3 linked regions of the Homo sapiens genome follow. Each later gene encodes a partner of the first gene's protein in a complex. Each region holds a gene or a part of one and is shown on either strand. Other genes may lie near its edges.

What was found. The genes of interacting proteins can lie anywhere in the genome.
Region 2: RUVBL2 (region 1) and URI1 share a complex: the UniProt entries of both Homo sapiens proteins name them as parts of the PAQosome complex.
Region 3: RUVBL2 (region 1) and EPC1 share a complex: the UniProt entries of both Homo sapiens proteins name them as parts of the nuA4-related complex.

The regions. Positions count from the first base shown.
Region 1 is NC_000019.10:48,995,782-49,004,277, reverse strand, and holds part of RUVBL2 (ruvB-like 2), read right to left. Parts: intron 4,960-8,496; coding exon 4,905-4,959; intron 1,000-4,904; coding exon 944-999; intron 72-943; exon of another isoform or gene 23-71; coding exon of another isoform or gene 2-22; coding exon 1-1. UniProt on the Homo sapiens protein: Possesses single-stranded DNA-stimulated ATPase and ATP-dependent DNA helicase (5' to 3') activity; hexamerization is thought to be critical for ATP hydrolysis and adjacent subunits in the ring-like structure contribute to the ATPase activity.
Region 2 is NC_000019.10:29,979,497-29,987,992, forward strand, and holds part of URI1 (unconventional prefoldin RPB5 interactor 1), read left to right. Parts: intron 1-662; exon of another isoform or gene 663-754; intron 755-5,726; coding exon 5,727-5,805; intron 5,806-6,785; coding exon 6,786-6,921; intron 6,922-8,496. UniProt on the Homo sapiens protein: Involved in gene transcription regulation. Acts as a transcriptional repressor in concert with the corepressor UXT to regulate androgen receptor (AR) transcription.
Region 3 is NC_000010.11:32,336,405-32,344,900, forward strand, and holds part of EPC1 (enhancer of polycomb homolog 1), read right to left. Parts: intron 1-8,496. UniProt on the Homo sapiens protein: Component of the NuA4 histone acetyltransferase (HAT) complex, a multiprotein complex involved in transcriptional activation of select genes principally by acetylation of nucleosomal histones H4 and H2A.

The DNA of each region.
Region 1 (8,496 bases):
CCTGTGGGTGGGAGGCGCACATGAGGTGATTTCCTGTGGGGCTACCATGGCATTTCTACCACATCAGGAAGCTAGTGAGATGGAAGCAGACATTACTAGCTGGGACTTCTAGGAAAAGCCAAAAAAGCTTTCCCTGCTTTTTTTTTTTTTTTTTTTTTTTTTGAGACAAGATCTCGCTCTGTCACCCAGGCTGAAGTACAGTGGTACAATCATGGCTCACTGTAGCCTTGACCTCTAGGGATCAAGAGATCCTTCCACCTCAGCCTCTTGAGTAGCTGGGACCACAAATGTGCACCACCATGTCCAGCTAATTTTTAAAATTTTTTGTAGAAAGGAGGTGTCACTATGTTACCCAGGCTGGCCTCAAGCTCTTAGGCTCAAGCAATCTTCCCATCTCAGCCTCCCAAAGTATTGGGATTACAAGTGTGAGCCATTGCACCCAGTCTAACTTTTTTTTAAGGTGGCAAAGCAATTGCTACCCACTCCCAATTCTTTTTTTTTTTTTCCGAGATGTCACCCAGGCTGGAGGGCAGTGGCACAATCTCGGCTCATTGCAACCTCCACCTCCCAGGTTCAAGCAATTCTCCTGCCTTAGGCTCTTGAGTAGCTGGAATTACAGGCATGCACCACCATGCCCGGCTAATTTTTGTATTTTTAGTAGAGACAGGGTTTCACCATGTTGGTCAGGCTGGTCTTGACTCTGACTTCAGGTGATCCACCCACCTTGGCCTCCCAAAGTGCTGAGATTACAGGCATGAGCCACCACACCTAGCCTAATCAATTCTTTAGTACCAAGAAAACCCACATGTGGTTGAAGTTTATGGGTATGTAGCCAAAGGTCCAGAAGACCGTAACATAGTCCCCACACTCCCCAGGACCCTGGGTACCCACTACCCAAGACCTTCATGGAGAGGCCCTCACACCCCAGCCTCCTCTGCTCTACCTGCCGAGGCTCCAAGGCATCGTCCAGCCCCAGTCCCCGGATGTGGGAGTGGGCACCTACATGAAGGGAAAGAACAAAGACTCAGTTACTAGCCAGCTTGCTGCACATGTGGCCTGACCCCTCTGAGCCCTGGTTTCCTTCTTTGTCAAAGGGGTGGGTGGGAGTAGGGAGCAGGGGTTGGGGGAATGAAGGGGCACATGGAAAGGATATCCCAAATTGGCACCTCCCTAGGAAGATGGCTGAATGTGGTAAATGCTCAATGAACTGGAGCTGCTCTGAGGATGCATCCTAGTTAAACAAAAGTCACTGAGGCCTGATTAAGCACATAATTGTACTAAGATCTAACCACAAGGGCTAATGATCACAATTACTTCATGTTTATGGTTTACACAGCACCCACATGTTCTCAGTTTATTCCATATGATCCTGCAAAAAAAGAGCCCTGGCTGGGGCCGGGCGCAGTGGCTCCTGCCTATAATCCCAGCACTTTGGGAGGCCGAGGCGGGCGGATCACTGGAGGTCAGGAGTTCGAGACCAGCCTGGCCAACATGGTGAAACCCTGTCTCTACTAAAAATACAAAAATTAGCTGGGCATGGTGGCAGATGACTGTAATCCCAGCTTCTCAGGAGGCTGAGGCAGGAGAATTGCTTGAACCTGGGAGGCGGAGGTTGCAGTGAGCCAAGATTGTGCCACTGCATTCTAGCCTGGATGACAGAGCAAGACCTGTCTCAGTAAAACAAAATAAAATGAAACAAGAGCCCTGGCTGCTATCACCCTGAAAGCACTTCTGAGTATCAAAATGGCAACAGTCCCAGAACCTATTGATATGAATGGGGAGGGAGCTCAGAGAGGTTAGGTCCCATGCCCCAGCCACACAGCCAGCGAGAGGGGAAGATGGGATTCCCATGCTTTACATTAGATGAGGGTTGAGCAAACCTCAGCCTGGAGGCCAGCCACCTGTTTTTGCAAATAAAATTTTATTGGAGCTGGGTACGGTGGCTCACGCTTATAATCCCAGCACTTCGGGAGGCAGAGGCAAGCAGATCACCTGAGGTCAGGAGTTCGAGACTAGCCTGGCCAACATGGTGAAACCCCGTCTCTACTAAAAAATACAAAAATTAGCCTGGCGTGGTGGCATGCACCTGTAGTCTCAGATACTCGGGAGGCTGAGGCATGAGAGTCACTTAAACCAGGGAGGTGGAGGTTGCAGTGAACTGAGATCGCCCCACTGCACTCCAGCCTGGGCAACACAGTGAGACTCCATCTCAAAAAAAAAACAACAAAAAACCAACCAAAAAATCTTTGTATTGGAACACTGCCATTTATATACTGTCTGTGGCTGCCTTCGCACTGCAAGAGGAGAGTTGAGTAGTTTCAACAGAGGAAGGATTTACCATCTGACCCTTTAAGAAAGATTTGCTAGGGTCCAGGCGTGGTGGCTCACGCCTGTAATCCCAGCATTTTGGGAGGCCGAGGCAGGCGGATCACGAGGTCAGGAGATAGACACCATCCTGGCTAACACAGTGAAACCACGTCTCTACTAAAAATATAAAAAATTAGACGGCCGTGGTGTCAGGCGCCTGTAGTCCCAGCTACTCGGAAGGCTGACAGGAGAATGGTGTGAACCCGGGAGGTGGAGCTTGCAGTGAGCCAAGATTGCGCCACTGCACTCCAGCCTGGGGGACAGAATGAGACTCCGTCTCAAAAAAAAAAATAAAATAAAATAAGGAAAGATTTGCTGACCCCAGTGCTTGACTGTGAGCACCCCAAGGGAGGCTCCTGGGTGCAGCTAGTCTCTACTGGGTCCTCAGCTCACAAGCGGTGCTTGGCTCTTCATCCTTTTTTTTTTTTTTTAATTTTTTATTGTTTTTTGGCCAGGCGCGGTGGCTCATGCCTGTAATTCCAGCACTTTGGGAGGCCGAGGCGGGCGGATCACGAGGTCAGGAGATCGAGACCATCCTGGCTAACACGGGGAAACTCCATCTCTACTAAAAACGCAAAAAAATTAGCCGGGCATGGTGGCGGGCGCCTGTAGTCCCAGCTACTCGGGAGGCTGAGGCAGGAGAATGGCGTGAACCCGGGAGGCAGAGCTTGCAGTGAGCCGAGATTGCGCCACTGCACTCCAGCCTGGGCGACAGAGCGAGACTCCGTCTCCAAAAAAAAAAAAAAATGTTTTTATTTTTATTTTTTGAGAGAGCGTCTCACTCTGTCACCCAGGCTGGAGTGCATGGTGCAGTCACATCTCACCACATCCTGAACCTCCTTGGTTCAAGCAGTTCTCCCAAGTAGCTGGGACTCAGGCATGGACCACCACTGCCGGCTAATTTTTTTATTTTTTTTTTAGAGACAGGATCACACTATGTGACTCAGGCTGGTCTTGAACTCCTGATTCAAGCAATCCTCCTGACTCCACCTCTCAAAGTGCTAGGATTACAGGCGTGACCCATCATGCCCGGCCATACTTGGCACTTTTTGTTTGTTTTTGAGATGGAGTCACTCTGTCACCCAAGCTGGAGTGCAGTGGCACGATATTGGCTCACTGCAACCTCTGCCTCCCAGGTTCAAGCCATCCTCCCTAGTAGCTGGGACTATAGGCATGCACCACCATGCCTGGCTAATTTTTGTATTTTTAGTAGAGACAGGGTTTCACCATGTTGGCCAAGCTGGTCTCAAACTCCTGACTTCAGGTGATCCACCCGCCTCGGCCTCCCAAAGTGCTGGGATTACAGGCGTGAGCTACAGCACCCAGTCTCGGCACTTTTATTTATTTATTTATTGAGAGACAGAGTTTCACTCTTGTCACCCAGGCTGGAGTGCAATGGCATGATCTTGGCTCACTGCAACCTCCACCTCCTCGTTCAAGCAATTTTCCTGCCTCAGCCTCCCGAGTAGCTGGGATTACAGGCACGCGCCACCACGCCCAGCAAATTTTTGTATTTTTAGTAGAGACGAGGTTTCACCATGTTGGCCAGGCTGGTCTCAAATTCCTGACCTCAGGTGATCCGCCCACCTTGGCCTTCCAAAGTGCTGGAATTACAGGCATGAGCCACTGCACCCAGTGCCCCAGCACTTTTAATAGATGAAACAGTGTTGGCACACAGACCCAAAATGCTTTATATGAACTACCTTACTGAATCTTACATTAACTGATGAGGTAAACTATCTTAGCTTCGTCTTGCAGATAAGGAAACTGAGGCACAGAGAGGAACTAGTCCCTGGCCACATGGTGGGAAAGTGGCAGAGCTAAGCTCCAGGAATCCAGCACTGGGCTTCTAAAACCCATCTTCACAGCCAGAAGCCCTTACTGCCTTTCTCGGATGCCCTGAATCAGTGAGCCTGCTGCATGAATGAATGCGGTCACTTCCCTGCCGGTAAAGCTCTTTGTGAGAGCGCACCCTGCTGGCCTCACTGCGTCTCAACTTCCTGCTCTGTGTGAGCCGGGGCCAGTGATTTAGCTGTCCTGAAAATCAGTTCCCTCAGCTAACAGTTACAATATGCACCTCATGCGGCTACTGCGAGGGCTCCACAGGACGCAAACTCGTGCATTCAATGGTTATCTCTTGATCATCTGCTCTGTTAGGTCCTGTGCTAGGGACACAGCTAGGAATGACACGACCTCGTCCCTGCCCTCAGGGAACTCACCCCACAGTGTGTACTGGGTATACGAGGCCAAACCCAGTAAAGCACCCAGTAAATATCTATGACTTCCAGGCAAACATACCCGGGAACCCCACCAGGATAGCCAGGATAGCAGCCTGGTCCCCAGTGCATCATCTGACCCAACTCTGGAACTGAGGATCCTCCTCCCCCATTAGATAGGGCGAGTGGGGGAATGGTAGTGGGGGCACAGTTGGTGTGCAGGCCACCTCCCTCTCCATCTTAGGGGTCCTCAATAGGTTTGCTCTGTCAGGGCACATGGCAGGCAGGGCTTAGGTCCTATTCCTGACCCAACTCACTCACCGATTCGCTCAATCCTTGTTACATCACGGATCTCCGGGACTTTGGTTGTGGCTGTCTGGGGGTGCAAGAAGATGTGTCAGAGGACTAGTGTGGTCCCAGCTTTCACCAACCCCTCCTCTGTCCCTCCCATGAGATGGTCCTTTCCACTCCTTCCCCTCACAGGCAGGCGATGGGACAGGCACCAGTCACCCCCACCCCTCTTGCCTGTCACTGCCTAATGGCTGGTTGGTTGAGCCCCAGGAAGACAAGGACTGTCTGTCTCATCGACAGCTTGGTCCTCAGGGTCCAGCACATATTTGGTTATTTGGTGAATGAATGAAATCCTCCCTGTTTCTTTTTTTTTTTTTGAGATGAAGTCTCGCTCTGTCACCCAGGCTGGAGTGCAGTGGCCCAATCTCGGCTCACTGCAACCTCCGCCTCCTGGGTTCAAGAAATTCTCTGCCTCAGCCTCCTGACTAGCTGGGATTACAGGCGCGCATCAACACACCCGGCTAATTTTTGTATTTTTAGTAGAGATGGGGTTTTGCCATGTTGGCCAGGCTGGTCTCAAACTCCTGGCCTCAAGTGATACACCAGCCTTGGCCTCCCAGAGTGCTGGGATTATGGGCGTGAGCCACTGTGCCCGGCTAAGTCCTCCCCATTTCTTTTTTTTTTTTCTTATTTTTTGAGACGGAGTCTGCTCTGTCGCCCAGGTTGGAGTGCAGTGGCCCGATCTCAGCTCATTGCAACCTCCGCCTCCTGGGTTTAACCGATTCTCCCGCCTCAGCCTCCTGAGTAGCTGGGACTACAGGCGCACACCACCACACTTGGCTAATTTTTTTTGTATTTTTAATAGAGATGGGGTTTCGCCCATCTCTACTGGGGTTGGCCAGGCTGGTCTCGAACTCCTGACCTCAAGTGATCTGCCCACCAAGGCCTCCCAAAGTGCTGGGATTACAGGTGTGAACCACCGTGCCCAGACAAGTCCTCCCCATTTCTAATAACTGTGAGCTCCATAAGGACAGACACCAATGAGGAGCAGGCATGGAGCTGGACATGCTCTGGCCCCTGCTAATTTCCCAGCATCCCTTGTACCAGGCGGCCCCAGTTCTCAACCACCAGGCCTTGCACATGCTGGCCCCTGAGTCCAGACTGCTCTCCCTGCCCTCTCACTGAATTAGATCAAGTGCTGCCCCCTAGGGGAGGCCCTTTCTGTCCAACAGCCCTGCCAGGCTAGTTCTAGGACCTCTAGACATTCAGACAGATGAAAGGCCTCCCTGGGAGCCCGATCTCCCTGTGTGATCTCACATTCCCGAGGGAGATGGATGGATCAATATTCTCTGCTCCAGTGGACATGAGTCCCATGAAGGGCACGGCCTGTTCTCTCTTGTTCACCTCGGGACTCAATGTCTGTGGTTTGCTAAGTGATACTCTAAAGTGCTGAGCTCATTCAACAAGAATATACCGAGGCTTCCCATGTTGACAGTTCTCCACAGAGAGGAGCCAGCTACCACCCCTTCTCACATGGGGGAGGGAGGTGAGTAAACACCACCCGGGACAATTCAGGACCCCCCCAGAGGTCCACACAAAACATGGACACGAGTGTTCACGGCAGCACTATTCACAACAGCCAAAAGATAGAAACAACCCACATGTCCATCAGCTGATGAATGGCAAAATAAAACAGGGTCTATTTGTGCAAAGGAATATTATTCAGTCATAAAAAGGAATGGAGTTCTTTTTTCTTTTCTTTTTTTTTTTTTTTTGAGACATAGTCTCACTCTGTCACCTAGGCTGGAGTGCAATGGCGCAATCTTGGCTCACTACAACCTCTGCTTCCTGGGTTCAAGTGATTCTTCTGCCTCAGCCTCCCGAGTAGCTGGGATTACAGGTGTCCGCCACCACACCTGGCTAATATTTTTTTGTATTTTTTAGTAGAGATGGGGTTTCACCATGTTGGCCAGGCTGGTCTTGAACTCCTGACCTCAGGTGATCCACCTGCCTTGGCACCCCAAAGCGTTGGGGTTATAGGCGTGAGCCACCGCGCCCGGCCAGGAATGGAGTTCTGATACATGCTACAACGTGGATGAACTTTGAAAACATTATACTGACTGAAAGAAGCCACACACGAAAGACACATATGGTATGATTCCATCTATATGAAGTAGCCACAATAGGCAAATCCATATACAGAGAAAGATTAGTGGCTGCCTAGAACTGAAGATGGGAGGTATGGAAGGATTAGCGGTGACAGGTAAGAGGCATGGGGTTTCTTTTTGGGGTGACGACAATGTTCTAAAATTGACTGTGGAAATGGCTGCACAAGTCTGTGAATATACTAGAAAACACTGAGCTGTATACTTTAAATGGGTGAATTATGTAGTACGTGAATTCTATCTCAATAAAGCTATTAAGAAAAAAAAAAAACAACAGGCTGGGCGTAGTGGCTCCCACCTGTAATACCAGCACTTTGGGAGGCTGAAGCAGGCAAATCACTTGAGGTCAGGGGTTCGAGACCAGCCTGGCCAACATGGTGAAACCCTGTCTCTACTAAAAATACAAAAATTAGGTCAGGCACGGTGGCTCACGCCCGTAATCCCAGCACTTTGGGAGGTCAAGGCAGGTGGATCACTTGAGGTCAGGAGTTCGAGACTAGCCTGGCCAACATGGTGAAACCCAGTCTACACTAAAAATACAAAAAATTAGCCAGGCGTGGTGGCAGGTGCCTGTAATCCCAGGTACTTGGGAGGCTGAGGCAGGAGAATTGCTTGAACCCAGGAGGCGGAGGTTGTAGCGAGCAGAGATCGCGCCACTGCACTCCAGCCTGGGCATCAGAGCAAGACTCTATCACTAACACACACACACACACACACACACACACACACACACACAGATACAAAAATTAGCTGGGCGTGGTGACGCGCACCTGTAGTCCCAGCTACTCAGGAGGCTGAGGCAGGAGGATCATTTGAACATGGGAGAGAGGCAGAGGCTGCAGGGAGCCAAGATCACACCACTGCACTCCAGCCTGGGAGACAGAGTGAGACTCTGTCTTGAAAAAAAGAAAAAACAAAAAAACAATCCTGGATGGTGGATCTTTGCATGTCTGTTACATTATTTTCTGACACTTTGGAATAGTTCATAATTTCTAATAAGGAAAAGGAAGCCTAAGAAGCTAGCATGCTAACCGAGGCCACCCATCCCCAGGTCTCCTTCCTTCCCACAGGTTTGTGTTTTTTTTTTTGAGATAAGATCTCATTTTGTCCCCCAGGCTGGACTGCTGTGGCCTCCACCTCCCAGGCTCAAGCAATCCTCCCACCTTAGTCTCCCAAGTAGTTGGGACTACAGGTGTGTCCCACCACACTTGGCTAATTTTCTTCTCTTTTCTTTTCTTTTTTTTTTTTTTTTGAGACACAGCCTTACTCTGTCACCCAGGCTGGAGTGCAGTGGCGCGATCTCGGCTCACTGCAACCTTCGCCTCCCGGGTTCAAGCAATTCTCCTGCCTCAGCCTCCAGAGTAGTTGGGACTACAGGCATGTGCCACCACGCCCGGCTAATTTTTTTTGTATTTTTAATAAAGACGGGGTTTCACCATATTAGCCAGGCTGCTCTC
Region 2 (8,496 bases), about 19 Mb from region 1:
AGAGAACAGTAGAACAGATTTTTCTGTCCAGGCTTACTATATATATATATCCATTGCACTGTTTTCTCATTGTTGAAAAGTTAAATTGAAGAAATCTAGTAGAATGTTAGCTGCATCTCTCTTTAGATAATTTTGTTTCATTGACTTGAAAAATTATGTTTTTATATGCGGGTTAATCTTGGTATCTATGTCTAATAGTAAAGTTTTCTGATGGACTCATAAAATATAAAGAACATAGATTATTTCATCAGCATCTTCTGATGACATAAATTCCTTGGTATAATAGAGTTATAAAAAAGGAATATACCACCATTCTGCCTGAATTTTGTGGTACATTTCAGTTACTTATATCAATTGAAATTACTGAATATTTTGCCATGACCATTTAGAAAAAAAGTGTAATGCTATTGATTTAATTCAAGTACATTTAAATTTTCCATGAGGAGTGTTCCTTTTCCCACCAAATTGCATAAAGCATAACAGTATAGATCCCTTTTTCAAGAATTTTTAAATAAAATGTAACTTTTATCAATTTGTTTAGATTGTTTAAAAGGATACTTTGAAAAAAATCATTATTTCTTGCTTTAGTAACTGGAGGACATCTCTTTATCTATATAGAATCCATGCCCAAACTTAATATTCCTCTATTTTCTTGATTTTAGAGGTGAAAAGCCAGGCATCCTTCAAGCTAGTGGATCTTTGACAAAGATGCATTGCAAAACAATCAACAAACAATCAGAAAGGCATGCTATGTGTGAGTGATGATCCCTGCAGCATATGCCATAGGCTTGTTGTAGAGGAGCTGCTCAGTAAATGGTGGATTCAATTGAAACAAGTCTTTTTTGGATGCTTAATGGGAAGTTGTAGGGTGGGTATGATGGACTAAAAATTATTTCTAAAGAAGGTTATATATTGTATATATTCCAGAATCTTCCGTTTTTATCGTTTCTTAAATTAAAAAATAAAAATTTAACTCTGTCCCAGGTTAACTCAGATGTTAACACTTATATAGAAATTTTTTTCCTCTTTCCCCGTTAGGCATCTCACAGTATTTTCTGCTTGTCTGTTTAGGATGTTAGGTAGAGGAAAAGAGAGTGATAGAAGATTTTTTTTCTTAAAAAAAAAAAAAAAAAAAAAAAAAAACTGGGCCAGGCATGGTGGCTCACACCTGTAATCCCAGCACTCTGGGAGGCCGAAGCGGGTAGATCACAAGGTCAGGGTTCGAGACCAGCCTGACCAACATGGTGAAACCCCGTCTCTACTAAAAATACAAAAATTAGCCGGGTGCGGTGGCGCGTGCCTATAATCTCAGCTACTCAGGAGGCTGAGGCAGGAGAATCGCTTGAACCTGGGAGGTGGAGGTTGCAGTGAGCCGAGATCACGCCACGGCACTCCAGGCTGGGTGAAAGAGTGAGACTCCATCTCCAAAAAAAAAAAAAAAAAAAAAAGTTCAATGTTAGTATTTGCTGTCTATTTTAACTTCTTACTTTAAAGTAAAATTAGCAAAGTCTTATTGTTTCAACCTGATTTAAATTTTATCTCCCTTTTTTATTATTTAAAGGTTGGAGTCTTTATCACTGGCCTCAAAGGATGTAGACTTTTTTTTTTTAATAGAGATTTTTATTTTTGTCAGTCACTTTTAAGAGGATTAAAAATGTTGATCCCTTTCATATTTCCTCGTCCCTTTAAAAATATTCTATTATGACAAATTTCAAACATATGGAAGAGTGAATCTTGATCACCTATCTGTCTGTACCCTAATCCGTTAATCCATTTTTTTCTGATGAATTTCAAATTAAGTTGTGGACATCTGTGTATTTCACCCCTAAATACTTGAGCATATCCCTCATTTAACTTGATTTCTCTCTTACTTTCTACAATTTTATGCAAATGAGCTGTTTCCCATAGGTTCTGTCTTGATCTTAATCCTTTAAGGGTAAGGGCTAACTTGTGGTTGTGTTAATGGTCTTCATCGCTGCTGCCTATTTTTTTTTTTTAATTTCCTTAAAACAAAAGGTACTCTCAAAAGGCATATTGCACATGATTAGCAAGATTCAGAAGGAAGTGGTTAAAGTTTCTTACATGCCTTATACCTATGCTTTTAGTTCTTGTTTTGTATAAGGAATGTTGCATGAGGATATTGGAAAAAAATTTAAAATTAAGAGTTGAAGGCGGAACCTGATCTATAAGGATCCATTATGTTGAAGCCAAAGAAGCAGGTCTAGCTATTCTAAGTAAGTAGGCTGGAGAGGTGTTTCTTAACTCTATCTGGGTTTTGTTTTCCATTTGAAGAAAAATTATTTTAAGCAATTACCATTTTTGATTACTGTAATGACTCCTGTGTCCAAAAATTAATTACGTTTCTAATTATTAAAATAGAAAAAAAAATCTGTTCAAATTTTGTTATAAATAAAGACCCCAGACTTAACCTCAGTAATGCATTAGTTCTTAGCATAACTTTTGCATTTTCTGTTGCATAGGCTTTGTGATCTTTAACAGGATTATTTAAGCCTGAAATAATAGAGATACTATTTGGAGATCACTGTTTGACTAAGCCCTGAACATTTCCACGAATGTAGCCTTTAGAGAGAGAGGGTTCCTCAAGCTGTAGTTTCTTCCAGAGACATTGCTTGACTCCTCCTGGCCTCCCTTCATAAAGGATTTCTACATGGGCTGCATTTTAAGTGATCTTCTACTTTTGTATTTTTAGAAAATAATTCAAAATTTATAAATAGCAACTCTAATCTTAAACTGCTCTCCAGTATGTCCGCATTTTTATTCCAGAGAGAATTATTAATAAGTTGAAAACTGATTATATTTGACTTGAAATATTGACATTGATCTCTGGTATTGCCTGTTTTTGAACGTACTGTTCTTTTAATGTACAAAATAGATGTTTTTTGTGAGGAAGTTGTTTTTTTTTCTCCTAAGCATTGTTACCAAAATAAGACTTATTGAATGGTGACTTTAATACTAGCTTCTTAATATTCATAGAAATATTTAGATATCTAGGCTGGTGTATTTAGTCCTTGAGCATTTGCAGAATTACTTATCTGAAACATAAATAAGCTGTTAGTGTTATGTTATTAATAGTGAGTGTTGACTGTCTAGGCACTGTACCAGTCAGTCCTATGGAGACATTCTCCCATTGATTGCTCACACCAGTCCTGTTTCCAAAGCCCCTGAATGGTTACATTCAGCTGTACTGTCTTTCAGCAAGTTATACTATTTGTATCAAATTGGTTAGTGAAATCTTGTAGGTAATAGTCTTTCTTGAAAGTTTTGGAATTGATGTTTTTTGATGCTTCATGAAAAAAATGAGTTTTGAGTTTTGGAACCAAAATAGTAGTTGCTCCATGCTGGGCAGTGTGTTAGACCTTTTATATTTAATTCTGTTGAACCTGTGAGATAAGTATTAGTCCAATTTTGCCATTGAAGTTACTAAGACTAAGGTGAATTTGTGTAAATTGCATGTAGAGCTTGGGATTCACTCTCTGGTCTGACTTCAAAGCCATGTTCTTTCTGGTACATAGCCTTGTGCATGAAGTTTTTTTGCCATTTTATCCATATAAAAATTTTCCAGGAGGAGGATTTTTGCCTTAAACAAAAGAATAAAACATGTTTCGTATTTATTTATAGAAAAGGATTTTTTTTGGGGAAAGTTATAAAGCAGTTGCACACTAGAAAATGAGAAAGCTTTCATGAAGGAATGCAGGTCAGAAGACCTAGCTAGGTTAAACTCATTGCTTACCTCATCTTGATAGAGGAGATCTGGCTTCTTGCTATGTGGTTTTTCCATCTTCCTTCTACTTTGTCTTCTGTAAGAGAAAAATACTGATAAGTGACATTTATTATAGGTTATGTAAAATAATATATATGTGAAATTCCTTAAGATCTTAAGACTGAGCTAATTTTTTTTTATTAATTATGCTACTGTTGCTTCAGGGAACTAAGCAGTAAGCTGAAACCAATTCTGTGATGTTTGTCATTTATATTATCTGGAGAGTTGTTACCTACATTGCAGTTTATCCTGATTTCAATTTGACAATGTCTACATGTTCTTTTAAATTACTTGCTGAGTTGGTGAATTTTTGTTTCTGTTATTTTTAAAAACTGACAACATCCTTCTGCTTAAAAAAAATTCAGTGCTGTAGTTTTGCTTGCAGCCTGTATCTTAGCAGGGAACCCTTTGGAAACCCAGTCTCCAGAGAAAGTTTGACGGGCATCTTGGCATAGGCTGCTGCCTGGTATTACTCAAAAAGAAGGGCTGTTCATTTCCAGCAGGTGTTAAGAGCTGAGTAAGGCCCATAGCATGGAAATACGATCATCTCTGCCCCTACAGAGTTACATATACCTTTTGGTTGTTTGAAATTACTTATTTGGTAGCTCTGTTTGATGTAACAAGAAACAGACTCCTAGGCCAAATTGAAACGCCTTTTGTATTATCTCTACTTAATTTCTTCTACCCCCAGTTGATTCTCTCTTACCTTAATCACATTATTATGAATAATTGAAGAGCTGATGATGCATTTTTCAGCCTAAGGTTTTCTGATGAGGACTAAAGCATCTGATCAAATTTCATGTTCATGATTTCAACTTCACAGCCAGTATCTATTCACTCAAAAGCTTTATTAAATCTCTTCTTTCGGCCGGGTGTGGTGGCTCATGCCTGTAATCCCAGCACTTTGGGAGGCTGCGGTGGGGGGATCGCTTGAAGCCAGGAGTTCGAGACCAGCCTGGCCAACGTGGCGAAGAAACCTAATCTCTATGGAAGATACAAAAATTAGCTGGGCGTGGTGTCATGCGTCTGTAGTCTCAGCTACTCAGGAGGCTAAGGCAGGGGAATCACTTGAACCCAGGAGGTGGAGGTTGCAGTGAGCTGAGATTGTGCCACTGCACTCCAGCCTGGGCAACAGAGAGAGACTCTGTCTTAAAATAAATAAATCTCTTCTTTTTTCATCTTGAGTCCCTTCTTCTCTCCAAATATCAGGCCCTCTTTTACTGTCTCCCTTAATTTTCACATTTTATTTGGTCCAGATAGTCTTGTATCTTAAAAAACAGTAATTCTCAAAATTTGAGTATTCTGCTTCTAAATGCCAGAGTCCCTGAAGAGTCTTAATTCTTCAATAAATGTATGGTAGAATAATGCCATTGCTAAACTGTATAAAAACAGGATTTTAAAACTAAAAATAAAACCACATTAATCTTGAATTTGCTAAAATTATGTTTTTGATTAGCTTGTTTTATGATACCTGGCCTACTGGGCCTCCCAAATTGCTGGGATTACAGGCGTGAGCCACCACACACGACTGAAAGAAGAGATTTAATAAAGCTTTTGAGTGAGGCCAGGTGCAGTGGCTCACGCCTGTAACTCTAGCACTTCAGGAGGCTGAAGTGGGAGGATCATGAGGTCAGGAGTTCAAGACCAGCCTGACCAACATGGTGAAACCTCCTCTCTACTGAAAATACAAAAACTAGCCTTGCATGGTGGCGCACACTTGTAATCCCAGCTACTCAGGAGGCTGAGGCAGGAGAATTGCTTGAACCCGGGAGGTGGAGGGTGCAGTGAGCCGAGATCACGCCACTGCACTTTAGCCTGGGCGACGGAGCGACACTCTGTCTCAAAAAAAAAAAAAAAAAAAAAAAAAAAAAAAAAAAAAAAAAAAAAAAAAAAAAAAAAAGAAAAATCGTTAATAATGTGTGTATTTGGTGTTTTCTGTCAACAGGAAGAAGGTAGATAATGACTATAATGCCCTTCGAGAAAGACTCAGCACCTTGCCTGATAAATTGTCTTATAATATAATGGTATGTTTGGTGTGTTTCTTTTAAAGTAATAGTTGTTTCTTGTAAACATATTAACTATGTGTCGGTTCACAGAATGTCAGGCTGATGGACTGTGTCCAAGGTAACTATGTAGCAAGGAAGATTTGTTTTGTTTTACTTTATAAGAACACAGTAATTGTAGTAATTGTTGGTATTTACCTTTTTTTTTCAGAATATATATGGTGACACAAATGACATAAATATTAGCACAAAATTGGACATATTTCAAATGGAAACTTACTATATAAAAAATGTAATTATGACAGAAATATGGTACTAAGTCGTTTCTTGTTAGCCAGAGCAGGAATAGGCCATAATGTTTTGTAATTCACAGAATTAAACCTTAGGACATTGATTTTTATATAAAAACGTGCTGCTAATTTTTGTTTTAATGATCTTCACATCGACATAGTGATCTGTTCATGAGCCCTGGATTAGAGCCTTTCATTGCATGAATGTTCTTTCTTATGAAGACTTTGTTCTTTTATACTAGTCCAAGTATTTTGTATATATAGCTAGATAGATCCATTAAAGCTATTTGTTTACTAATTCCTGCTTTGCAAAAGTGTCTACTTTATTGAAAATAATTTTTAGTTTTCTTTATCAAAAGTATTTTGCATTGACAATGTTTCACTACTAGTTGCTTTCACTTAGATTTGCAAGTGAATGAAAAGTATAAACATGCCGAGACAGTACTACTTTCTTTAAGAGCTATATGTAAATATGGTGTGGATTTATTTTCCTGTTTTAACATTGATTTATGAACATAAAGCAATTTTCTTTAGATTTTCCTAGTAAAATTTTAATATAGTGTTGAATTTCTGTGAAGCTGGCATTTTATTTTTCCCAATGTATAAATAAAAAAATTCAGTTATGTAAGGCTTTTAATGCGAAGTGTTTTATAAAATGTACTTTTCAGTGTTTTATGTTTTTTCCCTTTTTTCTTTTTTTTTAAACAATAGGTACCATTTGGCCCTTTTGCCTTCATGCCAGGAAAACTTGTCCATACTAATGAAGTCACTGTTTTACTGGGGGACAACTGGTTTGCAAAGTGCTCAGCAAAGCAGGCTGTAGGTTTAGTTGAGCACCGGAAAGAACGTAGGTACCCATTTTAAATGATGTTTCTTTGTTGTATATGTATCCATTCACAGATTGCCAAGCTGAAGGGCTGTTTCTTACCAAAAGTACCTTCCGTGATCTATGAATCCAGGCTGTTTGTGATTCTGTTGAATTGTAGGTAGTTTGAGTAGAACCAACATTTGAGAATGAGCTGGAGAATGGAGCATCCGGGTTGGAAATGTCACCTACATTGGCATGTTTTCAGAAGTTACAAAGTTTCAAAGTCATTATGTGATTTTGTAGTTAGAAGTTGGGAAGACATAAAAATTGGAGTCATTTTATACCTTATAATTTTTTTTTAGTTGCTATTATAGACTTATTTTTGCACTTAATACTTTAGTACACAGAAATAATGTGTTTTCTCCTTAGTGAACTAAGAGAAATACCTGTTTACATAAGTAGACAATTCTTAAAAATGCTTTTTGGTTTGGAAAAAAAACCATATTTTCATTTGATAGAGGAGACCAGGTGTGAAAAGGTGCTACCTAAAACAGCACCCTTATCCTTTTTCAGTTGTTTGAGTTCTCTGCATCCCTTTATTAGGGCAGCTCTTGAGTTTTGTTTATCCGTGCTATTATCTGTAGGTGTATAGAAGCCTACATACACACACACAACACACACTACACATTTTGCAGTTGGATGAGCTAGCTTGGGTTCTAGCTTAGTTATATTTTAAAATTAGGTTCAGTTTATAATCTGTTGTTATTTCTGTAATACGTATTTAGATTGAGAGTATAATATCCGCCCTACCTGCTTTTTAACCTTTTAGTTAAATGTGTATTTGAAAATAAATGATGGGAAGATCCTTTTTTATAAATAAGGTCATACTAAACAGAAAACAGCTGAGTTTTCTAAAGCTGAACTTGATTTCACTTATACATGAATGAGTACTAGAGAACTCATTTACTCAGTGAAATTCTGGGAACTATATTTGGAGACTCTAATTGCAAATCAACTCCTATAAGTTTATAATTGATATATATTTTGATCTTTTGTGACACTAATCAGAATCTTATTGTTAGGCCTGTATGTAATTTCTGGCAATGATAAATCTTTTGGCTTTGCTGCATTATTTTTGTCATGTATATTAGCGAAAGAGAATGGGCATACTTTTTTCTTAAAGACCTTACTGAAGACGAAGCCTCTCTTTATATACTGAAGTAGCTCTGATGTTATGAAATGAATCCATAGCCTGTTGAAGTTTGTTCACATTGATTTTCATATTTCAGTGAAAAAAATCTTTATAATTAGTTATAACTTAAAATATTAATGGGAATACTTATACTACAATAGAATAGAGCTCTAGAGTAGAGAAACATGTTTTTGTAAATCACTTTCTAGTAGTTAAATATGGTTTTGGAAAGTGACCAAACATAGATGACTTTTGGGATCAATATTTATCTAAAATAATTTTCAAAGTACATATTTCCTGTTACAATAAATTCTGGGCCGGGCGCAGGGGCTCATGCCTGTAATCCCAGCACTTTGGGAGGACAAGGCAGGTGGATCACCTGAGGTCAGGAGTCCGAGACCAGCCCGACCAACGTGGTAAAA
Region 3 (8,496 bases), on another chromosome or scaffold:
TCCTTTCTACTTGCTGGCCAAACATTGACCCTTGACAAACCCTATCTACCTACTTTGTGCTGGAACTCAAGTGAATGCTACTGCCCAAGTGAGCTGACTGGTCTCACTTTAAATGATCACAAATATTGAGCCCTCAGCAAGTCTATCAATCCTTTTACATTTTTCTAAGTTAGCTCTCCTATACCTACCTCATCTCTGAAGGTTCTCCCTCACTCTTGAGGTGATGACCTCACTCATACCTCATAGAGAAAATACAACCATAGGATAAACTACCTCATCCTGTCATAATCAACTCTTAACGACTGACATGCATCTTTTCTCATTTATCTGCCTTCCTTTCACAAAGGAAAAAAAAAAGTTCCTGTTGGAATTAGTAACCAATATCTCCATTAAATGGATCCAGGAGAGACATAAAATAGTTATTAGGAGTGAAGTCCTTGAGTAGGAGAGAGGATGGGATTATTTCATACTTTTCAAATGAAATAATTCTACAAGTTCTAGTAATTCTTGCTTTTATTTGTAGCTTTAACATTTTAATCTAATTTGATTACCTGGGTTATTTCTATGTCTCTGTTAATTTTTTCCCTAATTATGGGCCATATTTTCCAGCTTCTTTAAATGCCTGATAATTTTTTATTGGATGCTAAACACTGAGCTTTATGTTGCAGGATCTCTAAATATTCCTTTAAACATTTTTGGCCTTTGTTCTGGGACACAATCAAGTTACTTGAAATTTAGTTTGATTCTTTTGAGGCTAGTACTCAATCTTTGTTAGGGCAAGTCCAGAACAGTCTTTAGAACTAATCTGGCCTCGGCCTCACTACTGAGACAATAACCCTTCTGAGGGTTCTACTTGATACGCTGTGTATTGAGGCCTTTCCATTCTGGTTAGTGGGAATGTGTAGCACAGTCTCAGCCCTATGAGCTTCCCAAACTGTTCTTTCTTTCCTCTTGCTTTTCCCTAGACTTGGAAGTTCCTCATGGACAGGATCAGATCAGTTTTCAGCTAGACACTCGAAGGGACACCCTGTGAATATCTGGAGCTCTTTTTCTGTGCAGCCCTGGTACTCTGCTCCAAAGTCACTTAGGCCTCCCCACACTCTGAATTCTGTTTCTTCAACTGAAGGAGCTGCCACATCTGTTTGGAATTTCCCATCCCTGTGCTGCAATCTGAAAACTCTCAAGGCAGTGAAGTGGGTCAATCTAGGGCTCAGCTTCATTTGTTTCCTTCATTTGTGCCTGATGGAACTTTGTAACTAATTTTTAAAAGAAATCATTTGCTGATCTGGGAGCCTCCTCCAGCTACTCCAGCCCTGTTTTTTTCTCTCTTTCATAGCAGAGCTATTCCAAAGAGTTGACTATACTTGCTATGTCCCCTTTTTCATCTTCTATTATTTCTTCTACTCCAGCTGGGCTTTCCTTCTCACCACTCCACCAAAACATGCCAATGGCACATATCTAATTAAATTACTTTCCCATACTTTCATCTTCTCAGTGGACATAGTTAACCAATGTCCTTCCTTCTTGAGATGCTTTTATTCTAAAAATGAAGAAAATCTTTTCAGTAGCTCCTCCTCTGAGTCCCAGAGCACAGCATTCCATGCGATTCATAAGCTGAAGACTCTCAGATTTATAGGACCAACTCATGACTTCCAAATTATACACTTCTAGCACAAACTGCTCTAATGTGCATATTCTCACATATCCAATCAGGACGAAAGAGGCACATTTCAAACTGAACAAGTCCATCCCTTCTACATCCCCCACCCCTAACTGTCCCTTCCCTGTAAGAGGCCCACTCATCTATCCAGCTGCTCAACTTGGAGGTTCATCCTCGGATTCTCTCTCTCCATCTAGTACATTCAAATCCACCAGCAAGTTCTGTTGGTTCTGGCTCCTCAAAATATATCTCAAATCCATCCATTTCTCTTCATTTCCACTAGCACCAACCCTACTTAAAGCCACCATCATCACTCTTGCCCAGTATGACTCATTCTCCACATGGTAGCCAGAATAATCTTGAAAAACCATTAAATCAGATCATGTCACTCCCTTAAACTCGCTAATAGCTTACTTCATTTCAACACAGTCAAAACTTCTCATGGTAGCCTAACAATCCCTTCCTGATCTGGATCGTGAGTACGTATGTGTCCTCATCTCCTAATCTACAACCCCCTGCTCACTCTGCTCTGAGTACAATGGCCTCCTGTTTCAGCTCAGGCTCTGTGCACCTGTAGGTCTCTCTGGATTATTCCTCATGCAGATCTTCCCACGGCTCATTACCACCACTCAAGTTTCAGGCCACATGTTTCCTAACCACCTACCCAAAGAAAATTATCCTTCTCCTTCTAACTAAAATTCTGTAGTATCTTGTTCCACTGCCACATAAGAACATATGGTGGCATCCTCCTGGAGTTTCAGCTACTCAGGAGGCTGAGGTGGGAGGAGCCTGGAGCCCAGGAGGCTGAGGCTGCAATGAGCCGAGATCACACCACTACACTCCAGCCTGGGCAACAGAGGGAGACCTTGTCTCAAAAAAAATAAATAAATAAATAAATAAAATAATAAAAATAATAATAAATTCTGGCTCTAATCTCAAATTCTCATGACAATAAAAGTTATTTTCTGACTACTGCATCCAATTACATCTTTAAATCCTTTAGAGACTGGCTTTTAGAACTTGACCCTTCTTAAACTGGAACCAACTATCCATGCACCTTTACTTCCATGCAAATTATGTCTACATAATATGCAAATGAGATTAACTCAAGATTTAATGACTATTCTCTAAACACATAAAATTCTTTTGGAAACAGATTTAAATATAATGGCAACAGAATATTCTCATTACAACAGGAAACTACCATAGGCCTACTGCATCTTACAGTCAAGAAAACCTGGGGCATGTGGAAGCAGAGCTAGAGGCTAGAGTAAGGCCTTACATCTAGTAACTCCGAGTTTGATGCTTTTTCCTATTAATAATTACCTAAATTAGCTGGGCATGGTGGCACACACCTGTAGCCCCAGCTACTCAGGAGGCTGAGGCACGAGAATCGCTTGAATCTGGGAGGTGGAGGTGGCAATGAGCCGAGATCATGCCACTGCACTCCAGCCTGGGTGACAGAGTGAACTCTCTCTCAATAGTAATAATAATAATAACAACCTAAGTTAAAATACATAGTTTTTCACAATCATATCATACAACTCTCTAAGGACACAAAATACATCTAACACTTTTATGTCACACAATCCCAAATACAAAATATAATGTTAAGTATCTTCTGAGAACAAAAAGCAAGGCCGTTCTAAAAATTCTATTAGTGTTTGGTAATAATGAAATTCATCTGTACATGATTTTTCATACACTGCCTTATTCACTCCTCAGAGCTATTTTGTAAGGTAGCTCAGAAGACTTAAGAAATGCAGAGACTAAAGTTCTTTCAGTGACGTTAAGTGACTTGTCAATGGATACAAAATCAAGGTAGGGAAAGTTTCCTTAGGATACACAATTGCTATTTGGATGCTCAGAGGATATACAATTGCTACATTATCAAAATAGTTCATCCCAATATATAAAAAGATTAGAACCTATATTAAATCATTCACAGGACATTTTAAACCTCAGGTCATGTTTGCCCCTAGATTCACTCTAAGGTCACATCCAATTTCTTCAGTCAGTACTTGCTATACTGAGGGAAATTCAACCAAAACGATTTGCTTAAATAATCTGCTTTGCAATTCAGCAAGTGATTATCACAACACATATCCAAAAACTGAACCAAAACTTTAAAGATAACCTCCATTACAACAAATACTTGAGGGAGGGCTTTATCTTTTAAAAAATTGATTGTATCTGCATTGATCAAAGCTACACCTCAGATAACATATTATAGTAGATGTAATAAGTACAGCAAGTTTGCTTTTGTTTTTCATATACCTATTACAGCAGGGTTGGTAGATGGAATTCACTTCATATATTTAAAGGTGCAAAGTTGAGTGTCCACTATATTTAAAATACTGTAAGAACTCAAAATCACTACCTATTATTACAGGATTTAATACACCTAATCAAGAAAGATTTTCTACAGTTTATAAATGTGTTGAAGGCAACAGTTAGCATCAATAAATTAAAAGCAATTCTAGGGCCAGGTGCAGTGGTTCTCGCCTATAATCTCAGCACTTTGGGAGACCAAGGTGGGTGGATCACTTGAGCCCAAGAGTTTGAGAACAGCCCAGGCAACATGGTGAATATTTAAAAATAAAAATAGAAAAAATTAGGCGTGGTGGTGTGTACCTGTAGTCTCAGCTACTTGTAAGGCTGAGGTGAGAGGACTGCTTGAGCTAGGGAGGTTGAGGCTGCAGCTGCAGTGAGCTATGATCGTGTCACTGCTCTCCAGCCTGGGTGACAGAGCAAGACTTTGACTCAAAAAAAAACCCGCAATTCTAGCAAGTTGTTTAAAACATTTGAATCCCTTGTCTTCTCATTGATTTCTCAGAATTTGGTTTATTCTTACCAAAAAGTTATTGTTATCAATGCAAGTCACACTTCAGTGTTCCAAAAGTCTACTTTAAAAGTAAATACATACTCTAGTTGTCTCTGAAAGTATGTCATACTTTCATATCACTTTTGCCCTTAGACACGCTCAATTCTTTTTATTCCTGAATTACAATATAAAATTCTCATTTCCTTGTGCATCTCTTCTTCTAAGAAGTACAATCACAAATGATACAATTCCATGGTATTATTGCTCCCTTAAAATGCTATCTTCTGCTTTTAACTAACTGCTGTTAACAATTAAGCATCCTTAACTTTTCAAGAAAATTGAGTAATAAATGTAATCAGAAATCACATCTTTACATACATAAAAAGGACTCTTGCCATTACTAAGTGCTTTAAAACATGGACACATGTCTGTGTGTGTGTGTCTGTGTGTGTGTATAGATTCTATGTTTCTACCATTACTACCAGTACATACCATGACACAGTAGAATGCAAAATATAAAACTAAAACCCAGCCATTTTTAACAGGATTGGTTGGTATATTTAATCCTGCCCACACATTCATGAACCTTTATGCAGAATTTTTTCTCTCGTTTACAAAATTTAAGCTACACTGTAGGCAGTACTTTTAATTAAGTCCTATTAACAGAAAAAAATGTAATTCAGTACAAATGCCATTGCTGATCATGAAAAGCACCCACAAAATACCATTAGATACATAAACACATTCAAATGGTATACTGAAACAAAAGTTAATACTAACATTTCAGGTGCATAGGCATGTAAAGTGTTCAAAAGGTCCCTTCTGTATTCAAGAATCCTTAGTCTCTTCCTGGACTGCCTGTCCTTTTTCAATTATCCTCCTTTGACTAAGTCTATTTAGTAACTGCCAAACTGAGATAAAACCAAAATGACTCAGTTTGAAATTTATGGAACAGCTGATCTTAACCCCTGGGCTTTCTGCCCCAGCCCATTACCGATACTTTGAGAAATTGATGACAAGTGTGAACCTTCTCCCTAGAAAAATATATTCTAACATTTTATAGGCATATGGTGGGAATCCATCACTTCCAGAATTATTTCCACATAATCCTCAGAACCCTAGCTTAGCAACTTTATGCAAAAATACCTTTGGACAGTATAGAAAGCTGAAACATTTTATTAATTCTCTTTGATTTTATCTGAAGTAATTGTAATCTAATGCAAAAATCCCCATACTCTCAATTCTTTTCTAATTCAAACTATCTGTAATTAGTTTGTTAAACTTTGCTTCTACTATAATTGAGATTTCATGTATTTCTCTTCACTTCCAAGAGAGTGGATAGAATGGAGAAATCTAGATTGATCTTTACAGCTCCAGATAAAGGGACTAAAAATATTGGTTTAAAATATTAAAGGTTAAAGAAAGAGACTGTTGGTTTCTTTCAAAGTGATTTAAATTTAAACTAGGTTTTTATTACTAAGTTTTGGAAATGGGGTAACCATTTTTTTCTCATATCAAGGATATGTACATATTTCCCATTTCCCCATAATTAAAAACAAACAACTCCCATCCACTTCTTATAAATAGTTCTTAACTTGGGCTTAGTAACAATGTATATTGTGCCAGTAATACAGAAAAGGTGGGAGTATAAAGACCATCCTGTCCTGTTAGAATCCTATAGAACCAAGGTGCTGGATTATGGTGGTTAGATCCTACTTGTAACAGTTTCAAAGGTGACTGTAGGGTAGTATCAATATGAAAACATCATTAACATCTTAATTACACCAAATCTCCTCCCCAAACCAGTCTAGGTAACAGGAGAGGAAAGGTTAAGTTGCCACCCCCTCATAAATGGAACAACGCACCCTAGACAACCCAATGAAAAGTTAAACTACTGTGGAACAGTAGCTCCATTTTGCTAAACATCATTTTAAAATCGACTTTTTAAAAGTGATGTTTCCATAAAGGAGAATTGTTAACAACATAAAGCTCCAATTTTAATCAAGAGTCAATTTTAATAAAAAGATTTGATAGTATTAATCCATTTGGTAAGTTTAACCTTTCAATAGAATGCGAAGCCGTAGCACAAGATTTAAGATTATAAAGATAATTAAATTATAATCTTAAAGTTAACATTGTAAAATATTCATAATAGGACATATGCCCCACACCAACCAAGCACTTGTTTAAACTTTTATCTTTTTTTAAACCCCAAAGGGACTCAATTATCTCAGAGCTGAAAGTCTATTATTTCGCTGTGATTTAAGTCACATCTGTACTTCATTAAATACATTGTTTTCATCATCCGTTACTTTATTTTTAATTAAATTATTTTTTCTGAAACGAGTTTCGCTCTTCTTGCACAGGCTGTGAGTGCAGTGGGGGGATCTCAGCTCTCTGCAACTTCCACCTCCCGGGTTCAAGCGATTCTCCTGCCTCAGCCTCCCGAATAGCTGGGATTACAGGCAGCTGCCACCACGGCTGGCTAATTTTTGTATTTTTAGTAGAGACAGGGTTTCACCATGTTGGCCAGGCTGGTCTCGAACTCCTGACCTCAGGTGATCCACCCGCCTCGGCCTCCCAAAGTGCTGGGATTACAGGCGTGAGCCACCGCATCCTGCCAATCTGTTACTTTCAGACTTAGCAAATTTCGATGCATTACATTCTGCGAATTCACATTTAATCTCTAACATCTTTGACCCAGTCAAATCCTTCAATTTACCACAATCTGAAGTTACTTTTTCAGTACTACTACAATTAAAAAAATAGATAAGTTCAGTAACATTTTCTGCCTCCAAATTATTTTGGGGGGGGGGTGTAAGGGCTTCTACTTAAAGTTGTTTCTTAAAAAGTCTGCCTCGTTAGGCCCGTGTGTGCAGCTCATAGTATTAAAACTGGTTAAATGGGAATACACGAATAATACTTATTTTCCCAATGTTAAAAGACCTGGATTTCTGTCAAGTATATCCAGAAACAACGTAACAATTACTAGGTGTATTTCACATGACAATTCTGCAGATTATTTTGATCAATAAAATGCTTTAATCAGGTGGTGTATAAAAAAACTGCCCTCACCTTTCAGGACCAACATAGGACTACATACTTTTTTTTCTAAGACAGTCAGTTCAGGTTCTAGGTTACAGTGACCTAATAAGATAACAAATAACTAATGTGTCAGTTAAAGGCAGAAGTTTGCTTTAACCCTTCCTCTTTATTAGAAGTACAAAATACTTCCGCACATCAAAAAGTTTGTTTTTCTATGGAGAATCCAGAATTCAATTACCTTTATGTTTAATATACCTTTTCAACACTGCATAACACACTACTTTCAATATTATGATTTACACACCCTACCACTAACAGCATGAACCACAGGACTGTAAAGCAGCTTGTTTACCAGGTACTTTTTACATTCTTCCATTAGGTTCAGTGTCTATTCTTGAGGTCTATGCTTCTCTCCTCATACATAGCTTTGGTTGGATGTGAAGTGAAAAATTCTAAACAGATATTTGGAAAAGGCAATCTGAAGAAAAAAAAAAATCCCTGTGTTTCAAAATTAGGGACTCCACATGTTACAAACTATTGATAGCCACTGCAGTATAAAATGTCAAAATTGGCCGGGCGCGGTGGCTCATGCCTGTAATCCCAGCACTTTGGGAGGTCGAGGCGGGCGGATCACCTGAGGTCAGGAGTTCAAAACCAGTCTGGCCAACATGGCAAAACCCCGTCTCTGTTAAAAGTATAAAAATCGGCCGGGCGCGGTGGCAAGCGCCTATAATCCCAGCTACTGGGGAGGCTGAGGAAGGAGAATCACTTGAACTCGGGAGGCGGAGGGTTGTAGTGAGCCGAGATGCTGCCACTGCACTCCAGCCTGGGCAACAGAGTGAGACTCCATCTCAGAAAAGAAAAGAAGAAAAATCTAAATTATTTCAGCGAATAAAAATTACCCGTAAAATTTAACAAGCACTGATACTTCATTGAGCTCAGCTCTGACTTCAGGTTGTAACTCTTG